Linked DNA regions of Homo sapiens. The protein of the gene in region 1 purifies or fractionates together with the protein of each later gene. This does not show direct contact. Each region holds a gene or a part of one and is shown in the gene's direction. Other genes may lie near its edges.

Region 1 (15,442 bases):
AATGTCCCATATAAATAGGGCTGGGGTTACTTAGCTCTGGCTAGTTTTTACCACTTGGCAGTGCAGGTCCAAATATTGCCAGAGTTTCAGATTTTTCAAGAGAAGCTGGAAATACACATTTTTATATGAAATATATTGTGCATTTTGTGTCGGATTTTTAAGAGACTCTTCCTTCTCTTCCTCCTCCTCCTTTGCAAGCCAAATAAAATCCATTTGTGGCCTGAATCCAGCCTATGGTCCCCCATTTTATTCAATCACTGGCTTAGAGTATGTGTTTTTGTTTGTTTTTTTGTTTTGTTTTGTTTTTGAGACAGAGTCTCACTCTGTCGTCCAGGCTGGAGTGCAGTGGCGTGATCTTGGCCCACTGCAAGCTCCGCCTCCTGGGTTCACGCCATTTTCCTGCCTCAACCTCCAGAGTAGCTGGGACTACAGGCGCCCACCACCACGCCCGGCTAATTTTTTGTATTTTTAGTAGAGACGGGGTTTCACTGTGTTAGCCAGGATGGTCTCGATCTCCTGACCTTGTGATCTGCTCACCTCCGACTCCCAAAGTGCTGGGATTACAGGCGTGAGCCACCGCGCCCGGCCTAGAGTATGGTTTTAAGTTTTTCAGGTTCTTAAACTTTTTTCTACACAGCTCTTAGAACTGAGAGGATTCTTATTTTATACTAACCAAGTGACCAAAAACTGTTATATAATTCAGAATGCCAGTTTATTAACTTATAATAGGGGAGGAGAGGGTTAAATTATCTTCTGATATTCCAAAGTCAGAGTTGTGGGGTTAAGCCATTTGGGGATGCTGGTACAAATTCATCATGGAATGGTTGCTTGGTAACCAAATGTAATTGGATAGTCTTGAGATGTGGAAAAGCCTAAAGAACCATCCTTGGCCCTCAAAAGAATATAACTCTCTGCGACTTTAATACTTACTTAAATCTTATGGATTCAGGGCCTCACTTCCTTGCAAAGTGCTGATAAATGCCAGCTGATTCTTGTTTTTGCATTACCTTTCAAAAAGTATTGCAGCAGACCCTTCATTAATACTTAAAAAAACTGGGTGAATACAACTTAATATTATCTGTTCTGTTAAATAGGCCAATCAATAGAAAGCTACTTGAACAACAAGTAGCCGACTAACTTTTCACAATTTGGTATAGTCCTTGATTATTTATATTAGTGGGAGATGGGGTTAGGATGAATAAGTCTCCAGATTTTATTTTGTGATTCTCTAAAGCCTGTCCTGTTATTTTTTTGTGAGCTGCTAAACATCACTGATAGTAAGTATGGTGTAATGGAAACAGCATAGAAGTGGAGTTTGATCTTGTTTTGTGATCTCTAGCCTTGTTATCTAACCTTCTTCCCCTAGCCAATTTAAAGATTTCCTTCACCCTTTTTTTTTTTTTTTTTGAGACAGAGTCTCGCTCTGTCACCCTGGTTGGAGTGCAGTGGAGCGATCTCGGCTCACTGCCAGCTCCGCCTCCTGGGTTCACACCATTCTCCTGCCTCAGCCTCCCGAGTAGTTGGGACTACAGGGGCCCGCCACCATGCCCAGCTAATTTTTTGTACTTTTTTTTTTTAGTAGAGACGGGGTTTCACCATGTTAGCCAGGATGGTCTCGATCTCCTGACCTCGTGATCCACCTGCCTCAGCCTCCCAAAGTGCTGGGATTATAGGCATGAGGCATGAGCCACCGCGCCCTGCCTGATTTCCTTCACTCTTTTCCATGTCATTTAATACATACCTTCCTTTTAGTGCATGATATCAAAGTTATTTGTTAACCTATGTGTGTTCATAGGCCTAAGGGTAGGAAGTGTGTTTGTTTCCTACTCTTAGAACATCTTGATTCATACTAGGAACTCTGTCTGTTGCTATAGTTAATTGAACCCTATCCATCATGCATATTTTTTACTCGTTCTCTCATAGGGTAATCTACCTAACCACGCCTTAATGTATGCTTTTAAATTTAGCGGCGGTGGGAAGAATGAAATGTAAAATAACTATAAACATTTACTGAGCTTTCAGTGTGATAGTAGAAAGCTGAAAAAAAAATTACTCAGCTAATGTGCCACTCTTGTACTAGGTGCTGAGAATACAGTGAAAAAGATAGATGTGATTGTTGCCTTCATGGGTTTCACAGTCTGATAGTGATGGGAGAAAAGCCCAGATATCTTTTTAATATGCTTAAGTCTTAAAAAATGACCAAAGTATAGCATACAAAAAAATTAATGCTAAATTTAAAAATACATGAACACAAATACAATTTTTTGAAAACAAAAAATAAAAACAAAAAATAAAAGAACAAATAAGCAAAAAAAATTTTAAAATAAAAATATTAACATCATATCACAGTACTGTTATATAATTTAAAATTATATATTTAAAAGTATAATTCAGAATTATGAAAGATAAATTTTAAAAATCTTAACTTGGGTCATGAAAAATGGTATGAACTCTTCAATAAGCATTTATTGAACTACAATGTTTAAGGCATTTTGTTGGGTGCTGAGCACAAGAGAAAAATATTAACAAACAGAAGTATAAGACTTGTTTAGAGGAAGAGCAAGTAAGTAGCCCAATATGATTGGAGAATAAGGTACATAGATAGAGTGATAGGCCATAAATCTATTTGAAGGTTACTTGACTGCTTTACTAAGAACTTTAGATACTATTCTGTAGAAAATTGAAAGGTTTTAATGGTTTTTGAGTAGAGGAGTCACATCATATCTGTGTTTTTGAAAGATAGAAATAAAAATATAGACATTATAATAAAATCTATGGAATATTTCCAGAGTAGTACTTATTATTCTCAATGTCTATATTAACAAAAAATGTCTAGTTTGACTAGGAAGGTTTACAATGAATCATATTAATATTGAAGAATCTAGAGAAAGAAAATGTAATCAACCAAAGTAAAACAGGGAAAGAAATACCAAAAATAAAATGAAAGCATCCATTACGTATTTATTTAACAAATATTTGTTGACTGCTTACCTACAATGTGGCAGACACTAGCTATGCCTACATAATGGTAAGTAAAAACATTCAATCATTTTTTTTTTTTTTGAGACAGGGTCTGGCCCTGTTGCCCAAGTTGGAGTGCAGTGGCATGAACACAGCTCACTGCAGCCTCAATCTCCTGGGCTCAAGTGATTCTCCCACCTTAGCCTCCTGAGTAACTGGGACCACAGGCATGCACCAACAGGTTTGGATAATTTTTAAATTTTTTGTAGAGACAAGGTCTTGCCATGTTGTCCAGGCTGGTCTCGAATTCCTGAGCTCAAGCAGTGCTTCCACCTTGTCCTCTCAAAGTGCCGAGATTATAGGCATGAGACGCTCTGCCCAGCCATATTCAATATTTTTATTTTCATGGAATTTATGACAAAGTGGTTGAGAATAATAAAAAGAATCCTTCTAATAAATGCAAATTACTTAGTGGCAAATACTGAGAAGAGGTCTGTTTACAAGCTACTATACTTATAATAAGGGAAATAAATGAGCCTAGTTGCTGGGCATGGTGGCTCATGCCTGTAATCCTAGCACTTTGGGAGGCCAAAGTGGGAGGATCGTTTGAGGCCAGGGATTTGACACTAGCCCGGGCAACATAGGGAGACTCTGTCTCTACAAAAAATAAGTTAGCTGGCCATGATGGCATCTGCCTGTGGTCCCAGCTACTCAGGAGACTGAGGTGAGAGGATTGCTTAAGCCTGGAGGTCAAGATGACAGAGACCCTGCCTTTAAAAAAAAAAAAAAGGCTGGGCACGGTGGCTGATGCCTGTAATCCTAGCAGGGAGGCCGAGGCAGGCAGATTGCATGAGCTCAGGAGTTCAAGACTAGCCTGGGCAACATGGTGAAACCCCTTCTCTGCTAAAAATACAAAAATTAGCTGGGCATGGTGACACGCACCTGTAGTCCCACCTACTCAGGGGGCTGAGGCAGGAGAATCGTTTGAGTGTGGGAGGCAGAGGTTGCAGTGAGCTGAGATCATGCATTGCACTCCAGCCTGGGCAACAAAAGCGAGACTCCGTCTCAAAAATAAAAAAAAAAAAAGAAGAACCTAATTAAGAAGGTCAGATAAGCTTTTGCTAAGGAATTGATTAAAATGAGATCTGAAGCATGAGTAGCAGTTAATTAGGTCAAGAACAAATACACTAATTCTACACAAACTTTTTCAGAAAATAGAGAAGGAAATATACTTCTCAGCTCATTCTATGAGACTAGTATTACCCTGAAACCTAAACCAGACAAAGACATCATAAGAACATTCGTTATGAATGTATGTGTGAAAATCTTTAACAAGATATTAACAAAACCAATTCTACAACACATAAAATGGCTTATCTACTATGACCAAGTGGGAGTTATCCTGGGAATGCATTAATTTGAAAACAAAGTAATGTAATATGCCATATTAATAGGATAAAGGACAATCATATGATCTTCTCAGTAAATACAGAAAGAGCATTTAACAAAATTCAATGCCTATTAATAATAAACTAGGTTCTTAGGGGAACTTCTTCAACATAGTAAAGGTTGTCTAGGAAAAGCCTGCAACAAACTTCACACTTAGTGGTTAAGACTGAATGTTTTCCCCTAAAATCAGGAACAAAGCAGGGATATCTGCTCTTACTATTTTTATTTAACATTGTACTGGGAGTCCCAGCCAATGTAATAAGCAAAGGAAAAGAGATGAAAGGCATTGAGATGGAAAGGAATATGAAAACTGCCTTTACTCATGACAGCATAATCCCATATTTAGAAAATCCTAAGAATATATATAAAAAATGACAGTAGGCTGGGCGCAGTGGCTCACGCCTGTAATCCCAGCACTTTGGGAGGCCAAGGCGGGTGGATCACGAGGTCAGGAGATCGAGACCATCCTGGCTAACATGGTGAAACCCCATCTCTACTAAAAATACAAAAATTAGCCAGGCGTGGTTGCAGGCTACTGGGGAGGCTGAGACAGGAGAATGGCGTGAACCCGGGGAGGCAGAGCTTGCAGTGAGCCAAGATCGCGCCACTGCACTCCAGCCTGGACGACAGAACGAGACTCCGTCTCAAAAAAAAAAAAAAAAAAAAAAAAAAAAAAAATTACAGTAACAAATGAATGTGGCAAGGTCTTCAAATACAAGATCAGTACACAAAAATCAGTTGTATTTCTATATACCAACAATGAATAATTCAAAAATAAAATTAAGAAAACAATTTTATAATAGCAACAAAGAATAAAACACTTAGGAATGACATAAAAAGTGTAAGATTCATACATGGAAAACTATAAAACATTGCTTAGAGAAATTAAAGAAGGTCTAAATAAATGGAATAGCATTTCATGTTCATGATCTGGAAGATTCAATATTGTTAAAATGTCAGTTTTCTCCAAATGTATCTATATATTCAATGTAATCCCTTCAAAATTCCAGCAGAAGTTTGTTTTTGGTAGAGATTGATGAGCTAATTCTCAAATATATGTATGTAATACAAAGGATGTAGAATATTCAAAACAAATTTAAAAAGAATAGTGTTGGAAGATTTACATTACTACATTTATAATACATCTGTTAGAACAAAATTAAAAAGATTGACAATACCAAATGTTGGCAAGGTGATGGAGGAACTACAACTCTTCTACTCTTCTACACTGCTGTTGGGCATGGAAAATGGAAAATAGTTTGGTGGTTTTAAAAATGTTAAATATGTACTTCTCACATGACCCAACATTTCCACTCCTAGGGTATCTACCTATATTTAGGGTATCTACTATATTTAACATTTTCTATCCAAGAGAAGTGAAAACATAAATACATGCAAATGTTCATAGCAGCACTATTCTTAATAGCCAGAAGTAGGAAAAACCCACGTGTCCATCAACTGGTGAATCAATTGGTATAAACAAATGTGTTATAGTCATACAATGAAATACAATTCAGCAATAAAAACTGTTAATACATACTGCATCATGGATGAACATAAAAAATGTCATGCTAAGTACAACATATTGTGTGATTGTTTATATGAAATTTCTAGAAATCTATAGAAATAGAAAACAGATCAAAAGTTGCCTATGGATTGAGGGGAACAGGGCTTTCCTGCAAACAGGCAGAAAGGAACTTTTTGAGGTGATGGAAATGTTCTAAAACTTGAGTGTGATAATGATTGCACAACTCTACAAATTTACTAAAAATCTAAATTATTTACTAAATCTGTAAAAATAGTTTAGTTTAATAGTATGTAAATTATACCTCAATAAAGCTACTTTAAAAATTATACCAATAGTAAAAGTAGGAAAAATCATAATATAGTACACCAAAAATGTAAATGTATACATATTCACAATTAAAATTGTTTTCTAAATTTTTAAAAAATATTTTATATTTTGTAGAGACAAGGTCTCACCACATTGCCTAGGCTGGTCTTGAACTCCTGGGCTTAAGCAGTTCTCCCTCCCTGGCCTCCCAAAGTGCTGGGATTACAGATGTAAGCCACCACACCCAGCCCTAAAATTTTTTAATTGAGAGAATATATTAAATCTAATGTCTAATATTATTTTCAGTGATGGAGTGTAACTTAGTCCTCCAAAATAAGCCTAAAATAAGAATCTCCCCTTTTACTAATCTTTTTTTTTTTTTTTTGGAGACAGAGTCCTGCTCTGTTGCCCAGGCTGGAGTGCAGTGCTCACAGCAACTTCCGCCTCCCAGGTTCAAGTGATTCTCCTGCCTCAGCCTCCCGAGTGGCTGGGATTACAGGCGCACGCCACCATGCCCAGCTAATTTTTGTATTTTTGGTAGAGGTGGGGTTTCACCATGTTGGCCAGGATGGCTCGATCTCTTGATTTCATGATCTGCCTGCCTTGGCCTCCCAAAGTGCTGGGATTACAGGCGTGAGCCACCACGCCTGGCCCCTTTTACTACTCTTTAGCATACTGTTTGAGATACATTTGCTAAGATGAGCAAAACATTCTAATTAATATTAATTAATATTATCTTTTCTTTTTTGTGTGTTTTATTTTTAAAAATTAATATTAGAGTGAACAAAAATCACTGTTTGAAGATAGCATGGTTTTGTATTTAGAGAATAAAAAAGGCTAATCAGAAGCACAGAGACTACTTCAGCTGTATTTATAATGTTTTATTTAAGCAGGATGGTGGCCATATGATAGATGACACTGACACTCCTCATTAAAGATGACAGTTTGAGGCCATGCGTGGTCGCTCACGCCTATAATCCCAGCACTCTGGGAAGCCGAGGTTTTTGCTCGAGGCCGGGAGTTTGGGACCAGCCTGGGCAACATAGCTCTACAAAAAGATAAAAAAATTAGCTGGGTGTGGTGGGCATGTGCCTGTAGTCCCAGATACTGGGGAAGCTGGTTGGGGGGGATCGCCTGAGCCCAGGAGTTTGAGGCTGTGGTGTGCTATGATTGTGCCACTGCACTCTAGACGGGGTGACAGAGCAAGACCCTGTCCTGAAAAAAAAACAAAAACAAAACAAAACCCAAAAAATGGTAGTTCAAATACATGCACTAATCTCTCCTGAAACCTCTTTAAAAGTACAACAGATAAGAAAAAATCATGGCAGCCTGCAAGGACTTAAAGAATGGAAGAAGAGACTACAGTAAATGAGAGCTATCAATACAATTTCGAAGGTTGGAAAATGAAAGAAGTAAAACTCTTAAGTGCCTGCAATAGGGAAAGCCAATAGGAAACAAGTAAAACCCCTGTAATTAACTTCTGAAAGACTCAGGAATTAGATGTATCAGGTATAATCTGTAGGAGTGAGAAAGAACTAAAGACAGGATTGTTTGAACATGTGTATAAGGGATAATAGATCTACCCCCAGATCTTCCTTATTCCATGTAGCCACATAGTTACCCTTATCTTCCTCTGACAGAAGACCGGGTTGAAGCTTGCTCTCTGGAGAGGCTGAGCCAGAGAAGTTCTGGATTCTGGAAGACCAGAAACAAATCAGAGTCTGGTGAGATGCTGCACTAATAATGGGGATTAAGTGAAAGTCTGGTCGTCAGATTTATAATCTGCAAACAGAAGACTGGAATTTCTTTTCGTCAAAACTGAGTAACCAAAGAGAACCTAAGGATACTGAAAAGTGAAATGACTGGCCACGCCTCTATAGTGAGGTCCACTATTCAAAATGCTTCACGCATTGCACACTGAGCTTGCATTCAGTGTGTTAGTGACTGTTAATTATAAATGGATAATTAAAGATCATCAAATATTTAAGACCTAAAGAAAAAGAAGAAAAGAGAAAAGAAGCAATGCAGGAATCATAAAAACAGTGTTTTTAAAGATATAATTACTACCTTTAAAGAACTGGATACTATAAAAAGACTGAGATATCTTCAGGACATCTATTGTATAACATTGGTGACTATAGTTAGTATGTTGTATTCTTGAAAAATGCTAAGAGAGTGGATATTAAGTGTTCTCACCACACAAATAATAACCATGTGAGGTAATGTATATATTAATTTAGTCATTCTACAGTGTATATCCACTTCAGAATATGTTGTACACACTGAATACATAGAATATTATCTGTCAATTTAAAAATTAAGAATGCTTAAAAAATAGACTATAGATTAGAAAGTGAGAAGACTAGAAAATAAAAATAATCAGAATAAATTCAGGGGTGGCTGGGTACAGTGGCTCACGCCTGTAATCTCAGCACTTTGGGAGGCCGAGGCTGATCGCTTGAGCCCAGGAGTTCAAGATTAGCTTGGGCAACATGGTGATACCCTGTCTTTACAAAAAATACAAAAAAATTAGCTGGGCTTGGCGTTGCATGCCTGTAGTCCCAGCTACTTAGGAGGCCGAGGTGGGAGATCATCTGAGCCTGGGAAGTCGAAGCTGCAGTGAGCCGTGATTGCACCACTGCACTCCAGCCTGGGTGACAGAGTGGGACCCTGTCTCAAAAATAAACACATAAATAAATAAAAATTAAAATAAATTCAGTGGAAAAGTTAGAAGATAAATTTGAGACCATTTCCCAGAAAAGTAGTATAAAAATGAACAACAAAAAAGAAAATAGCAAAGTGAGTGCAATTCATGCAGGAAATGTAATATCCAACTAATAGATGTTCCAGAAAAAGGAAATACATGGAGAAGAAGAAATTAATAAATAATTTTAAAAATTGCCCCAGAAATGCAGTACTGTGTATGTATTTCCAGATTAAAAGGATCTTTTCGTTGGGCATGGTGGCTCACGCCTGTAATCCTAGCACTTTGGGAGGCTGAGGCAAGAGGATCCCTTGAACTCAGGAGTTTGAGACCAGCCTGGGCAACAAAGTGAGATCCTATCTCTACAATAAAATTTAAAAATCAGCTGGGTGTAGTGGTGTGTGCCTGTAGTCGCAGCTACTCAGACGGCTGAGGTGAAAGGGTCCTTTGAGCCTGGGAGTTCAAAGGTGCAGAGAGCCGTGAATACAACACTGCACTCTAGCCTGGGCGACAAGCGAGATTCTGTCTCAAAAGAAAAAGGAAAATAAAAGGATCTTTTGAGTCATCAGCACTGAGAAACATTATCATGAAATTTCAGAACATTTAGAATTAGAGCTTGGGTTAAGCATGGAGTAGAGTGAAGGATCAAAACGGATCATGTAGACAAAAATTGGGAGTCAGAGATACTGCCCCTCAGCAGCAACTTCTAGCTCATTTGGAAGCTAAAAGATAATGGAATGTTCAGTGGAAGGTGAGGGACAATGGCACATGAGAGAAAGTGATTTTCAACCTGAAGTTTTATGCCCAGCCTAATTATTAATCAAGTGCAAAGGCACCACTGATATATTTTGAACTTAGAGTCTCAAAATTCATATCCCATACTCCCTCTCTCAGAAAGCTGTGGGAGGACATGTACTGTATTATAATCCATGAATAAGCCAGAAAGGAATTCATAGTGTCAGAAAACAGGACAGCCAACACAGCAAAGTAAAAGGAATTCCAGGATAATTGCAAATGTCTCAGGATGATACCTTATATCTGACCTAGAAAACAACCAGTCCAGAATGGAGTATGAGGACAGAAAATTGATATAGAACTCTTGAAGGGGGAAAACTAAACTGATATATGTTGTGTTCGAGCATATTGGAAGCAGATATGTAACAGAGGGAGTTTAAAGATGAATTAGTAATAGAAGATTAAGTGCATTAAAAAATGAGGCAATTACAGTTCTAGGACAAGCAAAAAATTTGTGAGAGGAAAATATAATAGTTCACTACTTGGCTTAGCTGTGAACAATATTTATGTAATTATAACCCTCTAAACATTGATGTAACAAAAATTTGTGATAAAACTCTATTGGAAAAAACTATAGTTCAGGAGGGCGTGCGTGTTTGGTGATGCTGTAATCATTAATAGTGTGTAGTATGTCTTGCATTGTTTTAAGCAACACACACAATTGATCCTCATGATAATCTTATGAGGTATGTGCTATTATCTTCCCTTTTTTATAGGTGAAGGAATTGAGGCATAGAAAGGCTAAATAAGAGTTATTTCCTCATCTTCAACAGTAAGAAATGAATGGATAACATCTGAAATTGATGAAAGCACTGTAAACATTTTTTGTTTTAGAAGTAAAGAGAAGAAATAGCTAGGATGTATGAATCAAGGGTAAGGAAGGGTGAGACTGGAATGTTATTTTTTATTAACCTTGTAATATGAGTATTATTTTAGTACAAATAAAGATTTAATTTTACAACATTTTTCCTCCAAAACCAAATAATACATTAAATGATGTTACCTGAGTAATAGGATATACATATATTTCCATATGCGATAGGTAGATTTAGAGGTATGTGAGTATTTACGTATATTGGCTATACCAATATGCTTTATTTATACCGGTGCCAAAACCAACAAATCTCCTTAGCATTTAGGCAAGAAATTTAGAGTCAGATGGACTGAACTGTATATTATAGTAATTTTCCTAATTATTCACTACCTGTAATTATTCTTACCTGTAAGAAGATTATATGGCTGCACTTACTGTCATGTGAGTTGCAGTGCCTTCCTATAAGAGAAGAATTCTTCCTGGCCCCACAGACTTCCACCTTAGTCAGGGGATTTGCTTGGCCAGTGGAATGTGAGCTGAATGTGACCTTCCTCCCATGACCCAATACTTTTCATTTTCTTACCTTTCCTATTCAGTGAATTGCTAAAGTACTGAAGTCAGGGTTTAGAGTTCTTCACCTTCACACTAATCTCACATTTTCAGTTACCAATACTTCTGGATGATACCTGCTAAATATCTTTTGAATATGAGTACTCTTCCCAGTTCACGCTTCTAATTACCTGGTCTAACCTATTGTCTACTCATCTGGTTGGCAAACTATTGCTTATGTGCAAATCTAGCTGAAACACAGCCAGGTTTAGTGCTTTACATATTTATATTCAATGTCTGTGTCTGCTTTAGTGCTACAGTGGCTGAGTGGTTGTGACAGAGATTGTATAGTCCAGCAGTCCCCAACCTTTTTGGCACCAGAGACCAGTTTCATGGAAGACAGTTTTTCCATGGACTGGTGTGGGGGGATGGTTTTACAATGATTCAAGCACATTACAATTATTGTACACTTTATTTCTATTATTACCTTATAATATATAATGAAATAATTGTACAGCTCACCATAAGGTAGAATCAGTGGGAGCCCTTAGCTTGTTTTTCTGCAACTAGACAGTCCCATCTGGGGGTGATGGGAGACAGTGACAGATCATCAGGCATTAGATTCTCATAAGGAGCATGCAACCTAGATCCCTCGAATGTGCAGGTCACAGTGGGGTTTGCACTCCTGTGAGAATCTAATGCCGCCACTCATCTGACAGGAGGTAGGGCTGAGGTGGTAATTTGAGCAGTGGGGAGTGGATGTAAATACAGATAAAGCTTCCCTTGTTCTCTCACCTGCCCCTCACCTCCTGCTGTGCAACCTGGTTCCTAACAGGCCACGTACCACTATTCCATGCCCTGGGGGTTGGAGACCCCTGATATAGTCCATAAAGCCTAAAATGCCATCTGGCTCTTTATAGAAAAATTTTGTCCACTCCTGATTAGATTACTGGGGTAGGTTTTTTAACTTTCTAACTGCTTTCTCTTGCTTCCTATCTCTCTTTACCCTCCATCTGTTCTTTATAGCAGAGCCAGGTTGTTGTTTTTTGGTTTCTGTTTTAACACAAATTTGATTATTTTTCTCATACTTAAAACTGTTTCCTGACTTCCTAGTACCCTTACAATAAAATCATACTCCTAGCATGGTTATAGTTTTCACATTATGGCTTCTTCTCATCTCACAAGTTTACCTCTCTCACCCATGTCTTGACCTCTTTTCACTTCCATTCTGTGCTTTAGGCCTTCTCAAACTTACTTTAGTTTTTACCATGCTATCTCTTATTCCTGGGTCCTCTCATGCTTTTCTTTCTTTCTTGCCCTGCCCTGCCCTGCCCTGCCCTGCCTTGCCCTCTCCTGCCCTGCCCTCCCTTCCCCTCCCCTCCCCAACTCCCCTCCCCTTCCCTTCCATTCCCTTCTTTCGAGACAGAGTCTTGCTCTGTCACCCAGGCTAGAGTGCAGTGGCTTGATCTTGTCTCCCTGCAGCTTCCACCTCCCTGATTCAAGGAATTCTCCTGCCTCAGCCTCCTGAGTAGCTGGGACTACAGGCTCATAGCAGCTACTCCCGGCTAATTTTTGGCATTTTAGTATAAGAGACAGGGTTTTACCATATTGCCCAGGCTGGTCGCCCTGAGGTCAGGGAATCTGCCTGCCTCAGCCTCCCAAAGTGCTGGGATTGCAGGCATGATCATATGTGTTTCTTGATTCCTCATTTTGCTATATCACATGTGCAACTTTACAAGTTCTTATACATTCTTCAGGTATCAGGTTAGATACTATTTTTCTTTGTGGAAATCTTTCTTGGACTTCTTAAATGTGAATAAGGTGTCCTTTATGGATGTTCCTGTAGTGCTATACTTGCCTTGTAATTGTTTTGTTGTTCACCATATGCCCCAAATCAGGGGTAACTTCCCTCTCTGCACCAGACTGTATAAATAGTTCAATTCTTTTGATTGTAATAAAATAGAAAATTTCAGCACCCTAGGAAATAGAGATTTCTCACAGGGTTTCACTTGTTTTTTATTCCTTGTTTAATACAAAGTCCAATTATATTGCATCAATACCTCCAGTGTTTTTGTTCCTCTTCCAAAAAGTGGGGACTTCATTTGTCAAGTGGTTCTGAGCTTGTGATGATGTTGCACAGTTATGTTGGGGGCAGACAGTAGAGAGGGCTGCGTACAGCCTACAGCTGGGGATCTGCAGAGAATTTCCAGACCACTACTCTGGCAACTAGTGATTATGCTGATTCTGTCCTACAATCTTTTCCTGGGCTGCTGAGGTAGAGGTTGTGGCCAGTAAGGAAATCCACTCATAATGCCCATTGAACCTCTCAAAGTTAAGCAGTCTTGTTTGATTTAAACAAAACCTCTCTCTACTTTGATTAGGGATGCATTTTGTGTCATATAGCGAAAGGCAGGATAGTGTAGTGGTTAGAGCACAGACTTTGGAATGAGAATGAAAGGGTTGGAATCTCTGCCTTGGTTGCCTTATCCGTAAAGTGAGGATAATAAAGGTACCAATCTCATAGGACATTTGTGAGGATTAAATGAGTCAAGTTAACTTAAGTACAGTCATGTGCCACATAATGATGTTTCTGTCATCAATGGACCTCATATACGACAATGGTCCCATAAGATTATAATGGAGCTGAAAAATTCCTATTGCCTAGTGATTTTGTAGCCATCCTAAAGTCATAGCACGACACATTACTCATGTGTTTGGAGTGATGCTGGAGTAAACAAACCAAATGCACTGTCAGTCATAAAAAGTATAGCATACAGTTATGTACGGTATCTAACACTTGATAATGATAATAAATGACTATATTACTGGTTTATATATTTACTATACTATACTTTGAATTGTTTAATTTTAGAGTGGACTCCTTCTATTTATTAAAAAAAAATCAGTTAACTGTAAAACAGTCTCAGGTAGGTCCTTCAGGAGGTATTCCAGAAGAAGGCATTGTGATCATAGGAGATGACAGCTCCCTGTGTGTTATTGCCCCTGAAGACCCTACAGTAGGACAAGATATGGAGGTGGGAGACAATGATATTGATGATCCTGACCCTATGTAGGCCTTGGCTGTGTGTGTCTTAGTTTTTATTTAAAAAGTAAGAAAAAAAAAAGCTTATGAAGATATAAAGAAAATGTGTGTTTTTAAACTGTTATTACAAAAGAGTAAAAAAGTTAAAAAAATTATAAAGCTTATAAAGTAAAAACATTACAGTAAGCTAAGGTTAAGTTATCATAGAACAGACTGGGTGAGGTGGCTCATGCCTGTAATTCTAGCACTTTGAGAGGACACAGCAGGAGGATCACTTGAGACCAGGAGTTTGAGACCAGCCTGGGTGACAAAGCAAGACCCCTTCTCTACAAAAACAACAACAACAACAACAACAAAAAACTCCTTGGGAGGCTGAGGTAGGAGGATTGCTTGAGCCCAGGAGGATGAGATTGTGGTGAGCTGTGATCGTGCCATTGCACTATATCATGGGCAACAGAGCAAGACTCTGTCCCAGAGAAAAAAAAGTTATTATTGTAGAAAGGAAGGTTTTAAAAAATGTGTAGCCTATGTTTATGGTGTTTATAAAGTCTACAATAGTGTACTACAGCAGTGTCCTAGGCTTTCACTTTCATTTACCACTCACTCACTGACTCACTCAGAGCAACTCCCAATCCTGAGAGCACTATTCATGATAAGTGCCCTATACAGGTGTACCATTTTTTATCTTTTTTTTTTCTTTATTGAGACAGAGTTTCACTCTTGTCGCCTAGGCTGGAGTGCAATGGCGCGATCTTGGCTCACTGCAACCTCAGCCTCCCGGGCTCAAGTGATCCTGCCTCAGCCTCCTGAGTAGCTGGGATTACAGGTGCCCACCACCACGCCTGGCTAATTTTGTATTTTTAGTAGAGACGGGGGTTTCACCATGTTGGCCAGGGTGGTCTTAAACTCCTGACCTCAGGTGATCCTCCTGCCTTGGCCTTCTAAAGTGCTGGGATTACAAGTGTGAGCCACCGCGCCCAGCCCCATTTTTTATACCATATTTTTACTGTACCTTTTTTAGGTTTAGACACAAATACCACTGGGTTTAAAATTGCCTAAATATTCTGCATAGTAATATGCTGGGCAGATTTGTAGCCTCGGAGCAATAGGCTGCCATATAGCCTAGGTGTGTAGTAAGCTTTACCATCAAGATTTGTGTGACTACGCTGTATGATGTTCAGGCAACAGTGAAATCACTTAAAGATGAATTTCTTAGAATGTATCCCTGACATTAAGTGATGCATGACTATATGTAAAAGTGCTTAGGATAGTGCCTGCCATGTACTTCCTCTT
Region 2 (15,442 bases), on another chromosome or scaffold:
TTCCTGAAGCTCCCTGGTGAGCACCCCAGCCCCCTCATTCTGACCCAACTCAGAACTTCCACTCTTGGTCCACAGAGGCCTCACTGTGCAGGCTGGGTCTGACTCACCGCTGCCCTGGCCACAGGAGGAGGAGGGCTGATACCAGTGAGCCTTCCCTGGAGATGATGGCCAGCTAAGCCATTTTGTAGATGGGAACATCAATGAGCTTGTCCAGAGTCTGCAGCCTCTTATGCAGATCTCAAGCCTCCAGACTCCGTATCCTAGGCTTCTCAAAGCAGGGCCCAGGTTAGCACTGTGCTCATTTTAGGGGGTGCCCTGAGGTGGTAATAAAGATGTCTTTCATACCTCTGAGCCTTTGCGTGAACTGTTCCCTTTGCCTGGAATGGCCTTTCTCTCCTGCCTCTGTGGCCAGGCCTGTGTGGAGGCTTCCCTGCTTTCCTCTTGCTGGAACCTCTGAATGACACATACTTCATTTGGCCTTATGTCTGTTGGCTACACTAGACCAACTCCGACAGGAACCCCAAGTTGTGGTAGCCCCCCCATACCTGGCGGGGGTCTGGACACATCGTGGGTGAAGCCCAGATGTCGACTGCCTGAGACTGTCAGTCCTCAGGGCACAGAGCATGAAAGGATACAGAGTGCTGCTCTGCATGGTGGGGTCTTGTTTGTTCCTCACAGTGGCCCAGAGGCCCTGGCACATTGTCTCTTCCAGACAAGGACCATGCAGACCAGTGAGGTAATGCGGCCTGCTCAGGACAGCGGGGGCCTGGGTCGAGGCTCAGGAGCTGGAGGAGGGCTGGGCCGCAGCAGAATGTGCTAGGGCTACAGTCTGGATAGTGGGGATGTGGGCACCGGCTGGCACCCAGCTGTCAGGGAGGGGAGGAGAGGAGAGCCAGGCCTTCCCCAGGGTGAAGGGGTGGGCCCTGCTGCAGCAGACCTGAGTGCTGGCGTCTGTGATGTGGAAAGCTGATTCCCCTTGGGAGCCTCCGCCACTCTCTGAGCCTTTTTCTCTTCTTGAAGGAATTCCTCCTGCACTCACCTTTGTTGGTTCATGCAACATAACTCCTCAATCCCTGGAGCCCCACATTGGACCCTGGGATAGAGAGAGGAGCTGGACACAGCCCCTCCCCTGGAGGGGCACAGGGTAGGCTGGGGAGGCAGACAAGTCATGTGCAGATGGGATACAGTGTTAACAGGTGCTGTCCCAGGGGCACCAGGATGGCAGAGGAACAGTGTGTGCAGAGGCCCTGAGGGAACAGTCTTGTGGGAGCTGCGAGGAGCTCCGAGCCCCAGAGCTTCAGCCCAGGGTGGAGAATGGTGGGGATGAGACTGGCAGGAGGAGGGAAGAGGGCAGGCACACAGGGCAGCTGGGAAGCTCAGGTGGTCCTGAACCCCACCCAGGGGTCCTGCTCGGCCCAAACAGCTAAAAACACCAGGGAGACAGGAAGTGCTACGGGCCTAAGCTCAGGCTCAGAAAGAAAAGGCCTGGGTGGAGCAGCTTGCCTGCCTCCTGGTCTATCCGTGGCCTTCAGTGCTCTGCCTGGGGCTAGCAGAGGAGACCTGACCCTGTCGGGGTGTTGGCCCCATAGATACAGTGGGAGGTGACCTTGGGGCAGATGGAGGGTGCAGAGGGGCAGTCTGTGCAAGGGCCGGGGCCAGAAGAACCTCACATAAGTAGGCCAAGGTTAGCCTGGCAGGCAGGTGAGGCTGGAGGGATGGGGCAACGGTATCAGGCCCTCAGCCAGCCAGGCCTGGCCCTGTGCAGCCCCTGGCCCAGCCGAGCTCTCCCTTTATGGCCTCCACCTCCCTTCCATCCTCCCCAGGAGTGGACCCTCCCAGCAGCGTTGGCCCCTTCCTAGCCTGGAGAGCAGCCAGACCCTCTTTCTCCACCAGCCTGGCTGTGTGCCCTGGGCGAGCTTCCTCTCCCTCTCTGGACCCTCTAGGCTCAGAAACACTGGAATTGCAAGAGCTGATTTCTGGGCTCCTGCTTTCAGCTTCTCTGATCTAATTCTTGTAGCCTAAATTGCTTCCTGAACTGACCCTGCCGGAAACCCGTGGTGCTAATGCTGCTCCTCGGTGACTCTGCCAGAAGCCTGAAGCCCGGAAGCTGGCTCTGTGAGCTCCTCCCCTCTCTCCCTCAGACCTCCAAGGCAGGGAGAATGGGTGGGAGGGGGCAGGGCTGCTGGCCTCCGTGGGCAGAGGGGCAGCCAGAGAAGTTAAGTGGTTGGCCTGAGGTCACACAGCAGCACTCCAGCAGGCCCAGTATGGATATGGGGGCAGAAGGTGAAGTGGCTTGGGTGCAGAGCAGGGGACAACTGCTCTCAGCTCCCTTGGCAGGTGGGGGGACAATGGCCCCCTTGCCCTCCCTGCTGTCCATCTGTGCCCATGCTCACTGCCCGCGCTCGCCTCTTTCCTTTCCTGTCTCTCCCTTCCCTCTTTCCCTCCACATGAGGCCCCAGTGAGGCTCCAGCTCAGCCACGGTGTGTGGGGAGACCCTAAGTGAGAGCGGCAGGGTCATACAGCCAAGGCGGTGGCACTAAAGTCAGAGGATCTGGGTTCCCGTCCGGACACCAGGTTTCCAGGGGAGCTTGGGCAGGTCACCTCACCTCACTGAGCCGCAGTTGTATTTTGTGAAAGCTGGCAGCCGTGTGCCCACCGGCACTGTTGGCAGGCAGTACACATGCACCTCTGGCCAGGGAAATGGGGCGTCTCTTGGGACCACTGGGTGTCTTGGCCCCTTCCCCCTCACTCCTCTTCCCACTGGCATGCTTGGCGGGCTCCTCAGCCTTCAGTTAATGGGTTGACTCCTTCCAGGAGGTGCAGCAGCACTGTGTAATTCCCATCACTGAGATGAGAAAACGGGCTCAGAGAGTTCACATGACCAGTTCAACGTCACCCAGCAGGAGGGTGGTACCACTGGGGCTGGCACTCACACCAGTCTTGATCTCAGATATCACTCCCACAGCCAGCCTGCCTTGCCTTGGTTTCCCTCAGGGCTGGGCTGGAAATTGTGGCCTTTACCCCAAAAGGATTGCACTGTTACCCTGGGCAGGCCCCAGGAAGAGTAGATCGGGGACTGTGGAGCTGCACCGCAGCCCAGATGGAGTTTGAGGGATGGGGGCGTGGATCATAAATGGGGTGGTCACTCAGGTGCTTGGCCGTCCGAGCATCTCTCAGCGCACCTGATATGCAGGCCCTGCCAGCCGCTGTTCCTTGCCCTGCCCTGCCCTCCACTCCCAGAGGCCTTCCCTGACCATGTTGGTCCAGTCTGTGTCCCTTGCACTTGGTCAGCACATTGGTGCAAAGTTCAGGGTGCTTGGCTGGGCCCACCTGGGCCCCTGGGGAATGGAGGGAGGGTTAAGGAGCCATGGGCCTGCTCTCTACAGAATTAGAGACGCCTATTCCCAAGATGCTGTGAGGAAGGCAGCATGGTGCGGGGAGGACCGGAGAGAATGAATGAATGATGCTGAGAGGGGTACCTGGGGCAAGGTTTTCCCACACCAGGCAGAAATGTGCCACTCTCTAGAGGTGGGGAGGGAAACCCAGAGGCACACGCTGCTTTCCTGTGGGAGACACACCAGCCAGGGAGCTGGCAGGGCTGGCCACTGGTCTGATTCCGTCTGAGGAGGTGTAGGGAAGGCTGGTCAAACAAAGGAAGGCAGGGAGGTAGGTGCGGTGTGGGCCAGGCCTGAGCTCTGTGTGGCCTGTGGGCCTGGTATCGCCTCTGAGCTTCAGAAACGAGAGAATCCAGTCTATGGAGTCAGGCCGGTCGGTGTCTGTCCCACTCTGCTGTATACCAGCTGTGTGACCTTGGGTAGGCTCCACGCCTCGCTGAGCCTTCCGTGCCTGTGCCATGGGGCTGATGATGTCCGCTTCACAGGGCACATCAGGGACCCAGGGACTCTGTGAGTGACCGTCTTCTTGCCTTCCTGTCCAGGTGTTCCCCCTCCCCTCCCTGGGGCAGCAGCCACCATGTTCTCGTGTGTGAAGCCCTATGAGGACCAGAACTACTCAGCCCTGAGGCGGGACTGCCGGCGCAGGAAGGTGCTCTTCGAGGACCCCCTCTTCCCCGCCACTGACGACTCACTCTACTATAAGGGCACGCCGGGGCCCGCCGTCAGGTGGAAGCGACCCAAGGTCAGTGTCTGGTCCCAGCTGGAGCTGGGTGAGCGGGCCCAGGCCCACCCACAAGGCTGGGCCTGCAGGGACATCGGGGTGGTGGGAGGAGGCATCCCTGGCCCCAGGCTGCTGAGAAAGTGAGGGTGCTGAAACGGTGGGATTTGATCCGGATGGGGAGCTTGGAGAATGGGCTGTAATCCTGTGGCCACCACTGGATTGGTTGAGGCCCAGCCAGGCCTTCACCCTCTCAGGGCCTCCACTTCCTCACAGGAAAAATGGGGCAGTAACCTCAGCCCCGCTGAGGGTCATTTTTGGAATAAAAATGGGGTGATGTGGATATGACCATTTTTGATAAAATGTAGATTGACATCCAAATGTAAGGAATTTACTTTCCTGATTGTTATCATCATGATTTTGAAATAGTCATTTGTGGTAGAAATGAAAAGTATTTATTATGATGATTAATCAATAATAATAATAATTGTAAAAAGATAGTAGTACCTACCTCATAGAGTGGTTGTGAGAATTAAAAGAGGTAATGCATGCAAAATTCCACTCACAGCCTGGCAGCCAGTACGGGACCATGGATACTGATAATGATGAACAGGTGGCGTCTCTCCGACCACTCCTTTTGGTCCCTGAGGCTAGAGTGTGTTACACAGAAATGTTTGGCCTCCTGGTGTGATTTCATCCCCTTGAACCCCGATTCCTGGGTGTGAGGGTGGGCTGGGGAGGGGTTCGCTGCTTGTCTGTGGGTCCTGCAGAATGGGGTCCCTGGTGGCCTGGGTGGAGGGGAGGCTGCAGGAGGTTACTCTCCCTGGCCTCCAGGGCTGTGCTAGTGACACTGAGGGTCGTCCCCTCACAATGCGGGAGACCATGCTGCTGTCTCAAGGATGCTCCAGGCTGGGAGGAGGCTGTGACTCCCGCAGCCCAGTAATCAGAGGAGGTGTCTTGGAGGTGAAGGGTGATGAGGTTTTTGCCCAAAGGGCCAGGTGGGAAAAGGCAGAGGGAATAGAAACTCACAGGTGGGAGCCCCTCAGGCTCATGTGGGCCTGTGGAGAGCCATGCCTGGGGTGGCAGATCTGGGGCCAAGATGCTCGACCTTGCTCTGTGAGTAGTGAGGTCCCGCGAAGGCAAAGGCTTTCAGCAGCCTGTAACAGGGTCAGATTTGCATTTTCCAAAGTTCCTCCTGATCCCCTGGGCTTTTTGGGAAAATGAAATGTAGTTTTCTAGTTTCCCTCCCAGGCTATGATCTCGAGTCCCTTCTGACTGAAAATACCCCGTAGATGTCCTTGGACTGGGACTCTTGAGTGGCAGAGAAACTGAGGCCAAGAGAGGAAGGTGCGTGTCCTAGATCACCCATGAGCTGCTAGCAGGGGTAGTTGAAGAGTCCTGCCTCCCTGCACCCCACCTTCCTGGCACCAGATAAAGGGCCCCTGGTGCCCTTGACCTCAGTCCCAAGAGCTGTAACAGAATCTCTGGCCCTGTACTGACTCTCTGGAAGGCCCAGGAGCCTCCTGGCCTGGCCACAAGAGTTCTGCCTCTTGGGCCCCCTCTCCCACGCCTTCCTCTCTTCCTTTGTCAAGTAGGTGGGGAGGGAGGCCTTGGCCTCAAAGGGCCTTTGTGAGGCCTTGGCTGTGGGGAGGAGGGCTGGGCACTCGAGCTCTTCGCCCTCCTCCCACTCCATCCCCTGGCTACCCCCGTCCTGACTCCCTCCTGCCCTCTGGCCATTGCCCAGACATTTTAGGTCCGTGGCTCCGAAAAGAGGCTGGTGAGGCCTGGCGGGAGCAGGCTGGGCTTGCTGCGGTGAGAGGAGGAGACGCCAGGTTGGCCCGCTTGGTACTCTCCTGCTGCGTGACCCAGGGGAGTCAGCTGCCCTTTCTGAGCCCCTTTCCTTGTGGGTTCAGGAGCCATGCCACACCTCCTCCTCTCGTTGCCTTCCTCGCTGGCTCACTTGGTGCCCTGCCCTTTCTAGACACGCAGAGCTGCCCTGCCCTGGATGTGGGGGCAGGTGACAGAGAGCGTATGGTGGCTGGTGTTCAGAGAGCTGTGTGAGTGGGGCCCAAGGGGCAGCAGTGATGGGGACTCAGACCAGGCTGGGGTGGATGGTCCACGGCACTGCCTGGATTTCCTAAACCATGTGTGTAGGCACTGCCTACTGGCTAGCCACAAGCCTGCAGGACAGGCAGCCCCTGCCCCACTAACGGGATGGGAGGTTTGTGGAGCAGGAAGTCAAGCAGGCTTGGCTCAGCTTGCTTGGCGGGCCCAGCCCAGTGGGTTATCATTAACGCCCAGCTGCTTGCCAGTGAGAGGGAACTTTGGCCTCAGGCAGCCTTGTTTCGATGGAGTCTTACCTGTGACCGCCTGTTTACAAATGAGAAGTCGTGCTGCATGCCCGTCCATCCCCTCCAGCTCCTTCTCTGAGTTGGTCCTTATAGTGGCTGCTCTGTTCTTAGAGGGTCTCCTCAGCCAGCCTCCCAGCCTCGCTGCCTCTCAAATGGAATGCAGAGGCTAGTTTTTGAGCCACAGTGAACTTGGCTGCAGCCTTGGCCCTACCTTACTAGAAGTGTGACCTTGAACAAGTCACTCCTGCTTGGGCCTCAGTTTCCTCATCTGTAATTGGGGAAGGATAATTCTTGCTGGTCACAGTTTCTGGAAACCGAAATGACTTGAGGTATCTGTGGTGTCATACACATGGGAGGCAGGTGACAAACTGGTTCCCCTCTCTTGCTCGTCTTCTCCTTGGCAACTTTTTGTTGGGGACCTAGAGCCACCTTGGTTGGGACATCCCATCTCCTATTGACTCTGCAGGTGGGACCAGGCCTTGTCCTCTTGGGTGCCGACCTGGGCACCTGCCTTCAGCCCACACCCTTCACCCACAGGCTCGCTATGTTTTTGTTCTTTCCAGTACAGTGGCCATTCGCTGGCCCCTCACAGGCCTGGCTGGGGAGATGCACGGAGAATGGAGAATGTCCCCAGGCCTGGGAGCTCAGGGTGTCCGTCCTCCTCGCTCAGGGCCCGGGACCTGGTAGGCGGCCTCCTGTCACCCTGTGGGGGCAACATCCCCTCATCCAGCATGCTGTCTCTCCCACATCTGGGTATGAGCCTGGAGGTCCTTTGGTGGAATGCACAGGGGACAAGGTGGGGTGGGGGAGGGGGACTAATGAACAGACACTGGTTTTGGAACCTGCAGAATTCCCCTAGTGCAGTCTCGGGGGCCCCAGCCTCAGCCCAGTCCCGGGGACTCTTGCCCATCAAGCCATTTCCTGGAGATGGCCCTACTCCTCGGCTCCCTGAACATAAGGCCTTTTCGTGCCACAGAACAGTCAGTTTGCAGCAAGGCCTGGCAGCGGGGGCACACCCAGCCGAACTGCCCAGGAATGACCCCCTTCTGGGCATGTGCTCAGAGATGGGGTTCAGTGGGGTCAGGGAGAGCTTTCAGAGGCCTTGAAGGGTGCGGACTGCCATGGAGGAGAAGGAGGTAGGGCTGGGGGAGGGCAAGTCTTCTGCAGAGGGGATGGGCTGTAGGCTACAACTCCCTTTCCAGTCCCAGATGGAAGTCCCGTGTCCTTCCCAGACCTGTTTCCCACTGTCTAGTTCATTCATTCTGTGATCCTAGATTCCAGGAGGGTGGTGACTAGGGTGAAGCTGGATGGACAAAGAGTGGGGGAGGAGGACGGATGTGGAGGGAGCCTCTGCAGATATAGCCCAGGTGCCATGGATCCAGTCTGCTGCCTTGCCTTGCCTTGTACACCAGGAATAGAAACCTGAATTTCTTGTTGTGCCACGAAGGGAGAAGGGAGGTGGGCTGGGCTGTGGCCTGTCAGGTAGAGTTGGTCTAACAGGCTGGGATGGGCTGAGCAGGGGAGCGGTGACTGCAGGTGCAGAATGCTGTCCTAGAGCTGTGTTGCCTGGAGAAATGGTCAACCCCCAGCCCTCAGGGGTAGCCCCTGTACAGCCCAATCCTGTGCACCACTTTGTCCCCCCTCCCTCCCAGGGACCTGTCTGTAGCCCCAGTGGAACCTGCCAAGCTTTGCTAAGCCTAGAAGTGGGCAAAGTCAGGCCTGGGCCCTGCTTAGGAGCTCACAGGCTGGTGGTGGGGACCCTAAGGAAACCTAGAGAGTGTGGACAGGGATGGAAGGGAGCACAGGTGGCTGGCACCAGATAAAGGGCCCCTGGCACCCGAGGACCATTTCGGAGGCAGTGTCTGCCTCAGGACACTTCGGGTCCCCATTTCCCTCCTGAACCTCCCTGCTTACCAGCACTCTCCATGCCTGCTCTGCCAGCATCACTGCCTCCAGGCAGCCTCCTCTGTTTTCTCTCTGGCTCCTGCTGTCACAGCTCTGCTCACATGGGGGGTCAGGGCCTGGCTCCTTCTCAAGATCCCTGCCTGTGGGCAGAGACCTTCCCTGACTCACTCTATGACCTATGTCCAGCCAGTGGCCCAGGAAAAGTGGAAGGACAAACACTAGGCTTGAGAAGCCTGGCCCCATGGTGGCAGAGGTGAGGGCCTGGGCTTCCCCAAACCCTTGGTCTCATTGCTATCTAGTGAGACACCCCCTAAGCTGGGTTAGGACAGGTGCAGGGAGACAGGTGAAGGAAGGATGGCTTTGTCACCCATAAAACCTAGCCCACCTGAGACCAGCCTGGCCAACATAGTGAAACCCTGTCTCTACTAAAAATAGAAAAATTAGCTGGGTGTTGGTGGCAGGTGCCTGTAGTCCCAGCTACTCTAGAGGCTAAGGCAGGAGAATCGTTTGAACCCAGGAGGCGAAGGTTGCAGTGAGCCAAGATCGCACCATTGCATTCCAGCCTGGGCGACAGGGCAAGACTCCCATCTAAAAAAAACAAACAAAAACAAACAAACAAACAAAAAACCTAGTCTACCTGGAGACTGCAGCCAGACTGCCTGAATTTGAATCTCATTTCACCTCTTCTTGTGTGGCCCTGGGCAAGTGACTTAACCTTTCTGTGCCTTGGTTTCCTCATCCGTAAAAAGGGGATGCCAACAGTGCCCATCTCACAGGGTTGTTTTGCACAGTGCCTGCCACATAGCAGGTGCCCAGTCATTGTGAGATATTTCTATTATTGTTCCTTTACAGGTGCCCCAAGGTGGCCCCTGGATTCCAGAGCAGACTCCAGGTGCCACCAACCTCAGGTGGTTTCTGTTGGTTAGAGCTGGTGACCCTGAGCCTCTCCTGGCAGTGGGAACATGCCTGGCTGCCTTCCGCTCTGTCTGCTCCTTCCCAGGCTGCACGATTGCCCCCAGGTTCCTGCTCTGCCACAGCAAGTCAGGGTGATGGAATCTGGGAATCGTGACTCCCAAGCTCGGTCTGTCTCTCAAGGACTGGAGAAGTGTCTGGGGCCAGAGCCCTGATCTGGGGCCCAGATCTGGTTGGATCTGCACCTCGGGTCTGCCCCAGCTGTGGTGCTTAGTGTTGGGAGACCCTGGTTGGGAGCCCAGCAGACCTAGGGCATCCCATCGGATCCGTCCACTTACTTGCCTTGTCACCTTGGACATCACTGCGCTGTCCTGGGCTCAGCCTCCTCCTCTCTGGGATGGGGCAGTTGTGTGTCTGTCTTAGGACACTGGCTGGGAGGATCTGAAGTGGAGGGACACCTGAGTCACTTCCTGCTGTAAACCCTGGTGATGCCAGGTGGTAGCTGTTTCTCTTTCCATGGCATGATGTGGCTGGGGTCCTCCGTATATGGAAGCCCCTCTCCCTTCCCGGTCTTGCCTGCCCTCCTGGCCTCAGGGAACAGATGCTAAGTCATAGCTCCCTCTGGGTCAGAGGATGGGCTGGATGTGGGGTGTGGTCCAGGGCTGGGAGGGAAGACAGGAGGGCAGCGGGGAGGAGAGGGAAAGTCCCTTCTTCCTGCCTGTGCTTCCTGACGGGGTGCCGTTGGGGATGGATGAGACCAGGCGGCCTCACTGGGTTTCCTAGACCTGTGCTCTGCAGAAGCCGCCGTGCAGGTTGGCCGTGGTGCACCCTGTAGTGCCAACTGGAAGGAGGGGCCAGGTCTCAGGAGCTGCTCATGCCCTTGGGGGAATTCTAGCCCTTTCTCTGACCCTCTAAAACTCTGGTTCTTCCGGGCAGAGGGGACAGCAGGGTCCCCATCTTGGTGGGAACTAGGAGCCCTCTTCCCCATTCTCCCTTGCAACTGCTCTGCTCCACGATCTGTAGAGTCCCTACACAGCCCTGCTGGGATGACCATTTATCTCCTCTGCACAGGTGAGGCCCAAAGTTGCACAGCAGGGAGCAGACATTCAAATTCGGTCTTCCTGCCTCTGCCACCCTCTGCTGGCCGCCTGTGGTAGGACCGCAGAAGCTCTTGGGATGGAACTAGCTCAGGAGCGCCTGCTGGAGTGGAGGCAGGCAGAGGGCTGCTGCCATCTGCCCATGCTGTGTGGCGGGGACATGGTATTACACCTCCCTGGGCCTCAGTTTCCTTATCTGTAAAAGGGGATATTGCCCACTTCTCAGTGCCTTGGTGAGGATGGATTGTGGTGTCAGCAGGATGCCTGGTACATGAAAGGCATGTCTCAGTGTTTGCCTGTCCCCACCCTCCACCATACCCACAGCCACTGGGGAGCAGTGGCTTCCTCAGCTCAGTGAGGCGATGGGAGAGGAAGAGGGGCCTGCTCTGTTCCCTGGGCCAGGGCTAGGGATCAGGCCAGGCCCCACCCCCAGCTCAGGCCTTGGGGAGGGATGATTACAGCTGAGGGAACACAGGGTGAGCTGACCCTTCCTGGTTGCATCTCTTGGTGCTGGAGCCACCCATAGAGGTCTGGGCATAGCTTCCTAGCACCTGAAAATTGAAGGAGACTTTCATTCGCTTTGGGTCAGGCCCTGGGCTTGATACTTTACATACACTGATTCCTCCTCGCAAAGTAGAAATTATTGGCCATGCACATTGGCTCAAGCCTGTCATCCCAGCACTTTGGGAGGCTGAGGCGGGAAGATTGCTTGAGCTCAGGAGTTTGAGACCAGCCTGGGCAACATAGTGAGACCTCATCTCTACAAAAAATTTAAGAGTTAGCTGAGTGTGGTGTGTGGGCCTACGGTCCCAGCTATTCGTGAGGCTTAGGCCAGAGGATCGCTTGAGCCTAGGAGGTTGAGGCTGCAGTGAGCTGTGATTGTGACTGCACTCCAGTTTGGGTGACAGACGAGACCATGCCTCAAAAAGACAAAAACAAAAACAAAAAACCCCAAAATCCAACAACATAAAGAAATTGTTGTTTCTATTATATAAATCAGAAAGCCGAGGCTCAGAGAGCTCGCCAGATTGCCGATTGAGGAGCTGGAATTCAGTCTCCAGTCTGAAGCCAAAGCCCATGCTTTTCCCTTTCACAGCACTGCCTCAGGGGGCTTTTAAGGAAAATACCCCCACAGCAAGAAGAGGTGGAAAGCCCAGGCCAGAGCTCCTTGGGCAGGGTCAGGTGCAGAGGGCACCTGGTACTGGAGCCCCCCTGGGCTGCCTCTCTCTTGGCAGGCAGAGCAAGGGGCTTCCAGAAATTAGGAAGGGCTGAGCCTGAGAGCAGCCAGTTGCTCATGGATCATTCCCGGGTCAGCGGCTGCCCTGGCCGGATTCCCTGGCTGCGTCTCATGGAGCAGCCTCTTGGGCCGTGCCCACCAGTCTCTGTAGAAAATAAAAATGGAGGCTGGGCGCAGTGGCTTATGCCTGTAATTCCAGCACTTTGGGAGGCCGAGGCCAGCAGATCAGGAGTTTGAGACCAGCCTGGCCAACATGGAGAAACCCTGTCTCTACTAAAAATATAAAAATTAGCTGGGCGTGGTGGTGGGTGCCTGTAATCCCAGCTACTCAGGAAGGTGAGGCAGGAGAATTGCTTGAACCCAGGAGCTGGAGGTTGCAGTGAGCTGAGGTTGCACTACTGCATTCCATGCACTCCAGCCTGGGCAAAAGAGCGAGACTGTCTCTAAAGAAAAAAAGAAAGAAAAAAGGAAAAAAAGGAGTTTTTGCTCCACTTGAGCATTTGCTTGCTGTGTGCCTTTGACAAGTCACAGTCCATCTCTGAACCTCCATTCCTCGCCCATACAATGGAATGACAACTCCTCGCTCCTTGGGTGGCGTGAAGACCTGATGAGATTATGCGAGGCAAGTGCCATGCGGGGCCTGGCCCACCGCTCCCCACTGGCCCCTCGCTTTGTGCTCCCCAGCTGGGATATGGGTGTTTGTCCCATGCCCGCACCCCCACCCCACTTGAACCTGCTGTACCCCTGTGGGCTGGCGGGGGTGGGCACTCAGGCTGCTGGTGCTAGAGAAGGAAGGGAATGGAGCTCTTGCTGGTTAGGGAGGGGCGCAGCGGGTAGGAGGAAGGCAGTGCCCCGGGTCCAGCGCTCTGACGTCTTCCCACAGGTTCTTCATCAGCAAACCTTTAGCGGAAGAGCACTCTCTGGCCAGGAAGGGGAGAGGGCATCCCAGGCAGGACCGCGGGGTGGGGGGCAAGCGGGGAGCAGATGGGCCCTATGGGGCCCCAAGTCTGTGGTGGGAGGCAGGTGAATCACCATGCTGATGATCACACAGCAAGTCTGTGTCTGTCACGTCTGTGTCTGTCATGTCTCCTGCCATGGGGGGCATCCGCATGCTCCTCCGCCCCTCACGCTCTCTCCTCGCCTTCTCCGCAGGGCATCTGCGAGGACCCCCGCCTCTTTGTGGATGGCATCAGCTCCCACGACCTGCACCAGGGCCAGGTGGGCAACTGCTGGTTTGTGGCAGCCTGCTCGTCACTTGCCTCCCGGGAGTCGCTGTGGCAAAAGGTGAGGCCTCGGGCAGAGTGGGCAGGGTGCTGGGGAGTGTGAACGCAGCCTGTGGCCCTCACTGCCAGACAGGCGGAACCTGATTGTGGCAGATGAGACTTTCAAAAGCCTGTGCCAGGGATGGGGTGGGGGCCCCCAGTACTGGCCGAGCGTCGGAATTGCCATCCCTCACCCTTCAGCTGGGCACCCCCAGGGGCAGGTGCTGGGAATCCGTCAGGCTCCCAAGGTCATTCTGATGTGTCCCCCCCAACACTGTTGGGGACACTTGGCAGATTAATACACACCTGTGAAATGTGGAAGCTGTGTGCATCACATTTAGTGTGCAGACACCACTGATGGGGCTCAGGAGACCCCTGACAGACACAGACCTGCTGTGTGACTCAGCTGGTTGCTGTCCTCCTCTGGGCCTGACTTTTCCCAGTTGTTCAGCAAGGGTGGTTTGGTGATCCCCAGCTTCATGACTCCCAGTTCCAAGCTGCTGGTGTTCTGGACCAGGGCCAAAGGGTTTGGGTGGGAAAGAATGGGCTCTGGTCCTGCAACCCAACCTCCTATCCCAGCACAGTTCCAAGCTGCTGGTGTTCTGGACCAGGGCCAAAGGGTTTGGGTTGGAAAGAATAGGCTCTGGTCCTGCAACCCAACCTCCTATCCCAGCACTTGGCAGCAGGGCCTTAGATTCCGTGCACAGGAGGCAGGGAGGCTGGAGTGGAGGCAGACCCTGGCTCCCTGAAGAATTATTGGCAGGGACTGCAGGGGGACTCTGGTCATTGCCCCTTGCTCATCCCTGCCCTTCTGCCATCCCTTGGGAGGGGCTGGCAGTGGGGCTGAGGAGCACTGGACATCTGCATCTCCCAGGCTTGGCAGTGAGCCTCAGCACTTGGTAGCTTTGGAGCTGGCCTCAGGTTACTCATCAGCAAAATAAGGACAATCGGAGTAGCTGTCTCTCGGGGAGTGGTGAGGATAGGACCAGATGCTGCACTCAACATGCCTTGTGCGGCATCGTGCTTGGCCAAAGGTGGCTGTGCCTACCAGCATTATGATAATTAATATCATAGAACATACAGGTACTCCTGTGCAAGACAGAGTTTTTCCTCATCCTCTGAGGTATCCCTTGGCCATCAGAGGGAGCAGTGCCCTTGGGCAAGGCTGAGACTCTGGTAGGTGTCTTGCTCTTGAGTCTGCAGAACGGGGATGTGACCTCTCAAAGCCACTCCAGGGTGGGCATCCCTGGGGCCTAGCCCCAGTAGTCCTGCAGGGTAGGAGCAGCTGCCTGCTGTAGGGCCCCTGGGGCCTTGGCAGAGGCCATGGTTGCGGCGTGTGGATGTGGGTATTCGAGGGGCACCTGAGCCAGGAGGGCTTTCGAGAGCCACCCGTTGGCTCATTTCAATTCTACGCCTCAAGGCCCAGAGAGGGCTGGGGCCTGGTTCTGTGCTCTGGGTGTAGGGCCAGTCCTCACTCTCCAGCTTCCAGGCTCCCACCCCCTTCTCTGAGCTCAGAACAAGGTCCCCCTGCCTTAGAGCCCACCCCCCCACTAGATGAGGGCTCAGTCAGGGGCTGAAGGGGCACATGGGCATTCTGTAGGGCTGCCCCCCACCTCCCACTTTGCCCTGCAATTGCCTGTTTATCTTTCACCTCCCCCGTGAGGTGAGCTCCCCACAGGCAGAACTGGCCCAACGTATATGTCCCTGCTGAGCCCACTAGGGACCTGGAGTAGAGAAGGCTCAGGAGAGTTTTGGGAACAGAGCTCCTTTCCAAATTGTTGGACTCAGCTACCACCCAGCAGCCCCACGGTCGGCCTTGCTCCCCCAGACCTCCCAGGGCCTTGTGGTGCTGGGCCTGACTCCAGTCTCCCCAGGAGAGGCCATCTGTCTGGCCGTTTGTAGGTGGGAGCCTATGTGTCCTGCCCTGGGCTTGGGCCCAAGTGGTTCCTGGTGCAGCTCCACCTCTCAACAGTGAAGAACAGGCCCAGGACTGCAGGCAGGAGGCCTGTCATTGAGGCCTGTGTTTATCTGTGGGCCAAAGGTTCCTATTGCAGGGAGTTGGGGCACCTGGCCTGGCTGGTCTGGGAGGCTGCCAGGGCCAGGAGGCTGATCTCCTACAGCAGCTTGGGTCCCAGGGAGGCCAGGGCGGGTCTGGGCGCTCCTGGCTAATTGCACTTTGCCTCCTGTGCTGCTGTGGTGCTATGGGTCCCGGAAGGAGGCTCGGGGCCCTGCGGAGCTCATTACTGCGCCTTCCGTCCCTCGTCCCTGTTGACTGGGCTCTGTTTGTTGTCACCCCTCACTTTCTGGGCCTGTTGCCCTGCAGGGCCTCCTTGTTTTCTCCATGGAAGGGCAGTGGGGGGGCTGCCGAGCCTGAGCTGCACCCCTGCCCTCCCCACCTCACACTTGGGGATTCTGAGCCTCAGACACACTGAGCATCACATCCTCGACACACACGCCCCCAACACACACGCCCCCACAGCAAGCCACCCTTACCCCTCACAGGATTCGAAGCCAGCCTGACCTGGATTTGATTCTGGCCGGGTCTCCTGCTAGCTGTTTTCGTCC

What was found.
Region 2: the proteins of PHTF1 (region 1) and CAPN5 purify together in Homo sapiens (affinity purification with mass spectrometry; 2 studies listed by BioGRID and IntAct, with this or other methods). This does not show direct contact.

The regions. Positions count from the first base shown.
Region 1 is NC_000001.11:113,742,032-113,757,473, reverse strand, and holds part of PHTF1 (protein PHTF1), read left to right. Parts: intron 1-7,884; exon of another isoform or gene 7,885-7,968; intron 7,969-15,442.
Region 2 is NC_000011.10:77,080,915-77,096,356, forward strand, and holds part of CAPN5 (calpain-5), read left to right. Parts: intron 1-3,937; coding exon of another isoform or gene 3,938-3,972; coding exon 3,973-4,137; intron 4,138-7,027; coding exon of another isoform or gene 7,028-7,147; intron 7,148-12,767; coding exon 12,768-12,899; intron 12,900-15,442.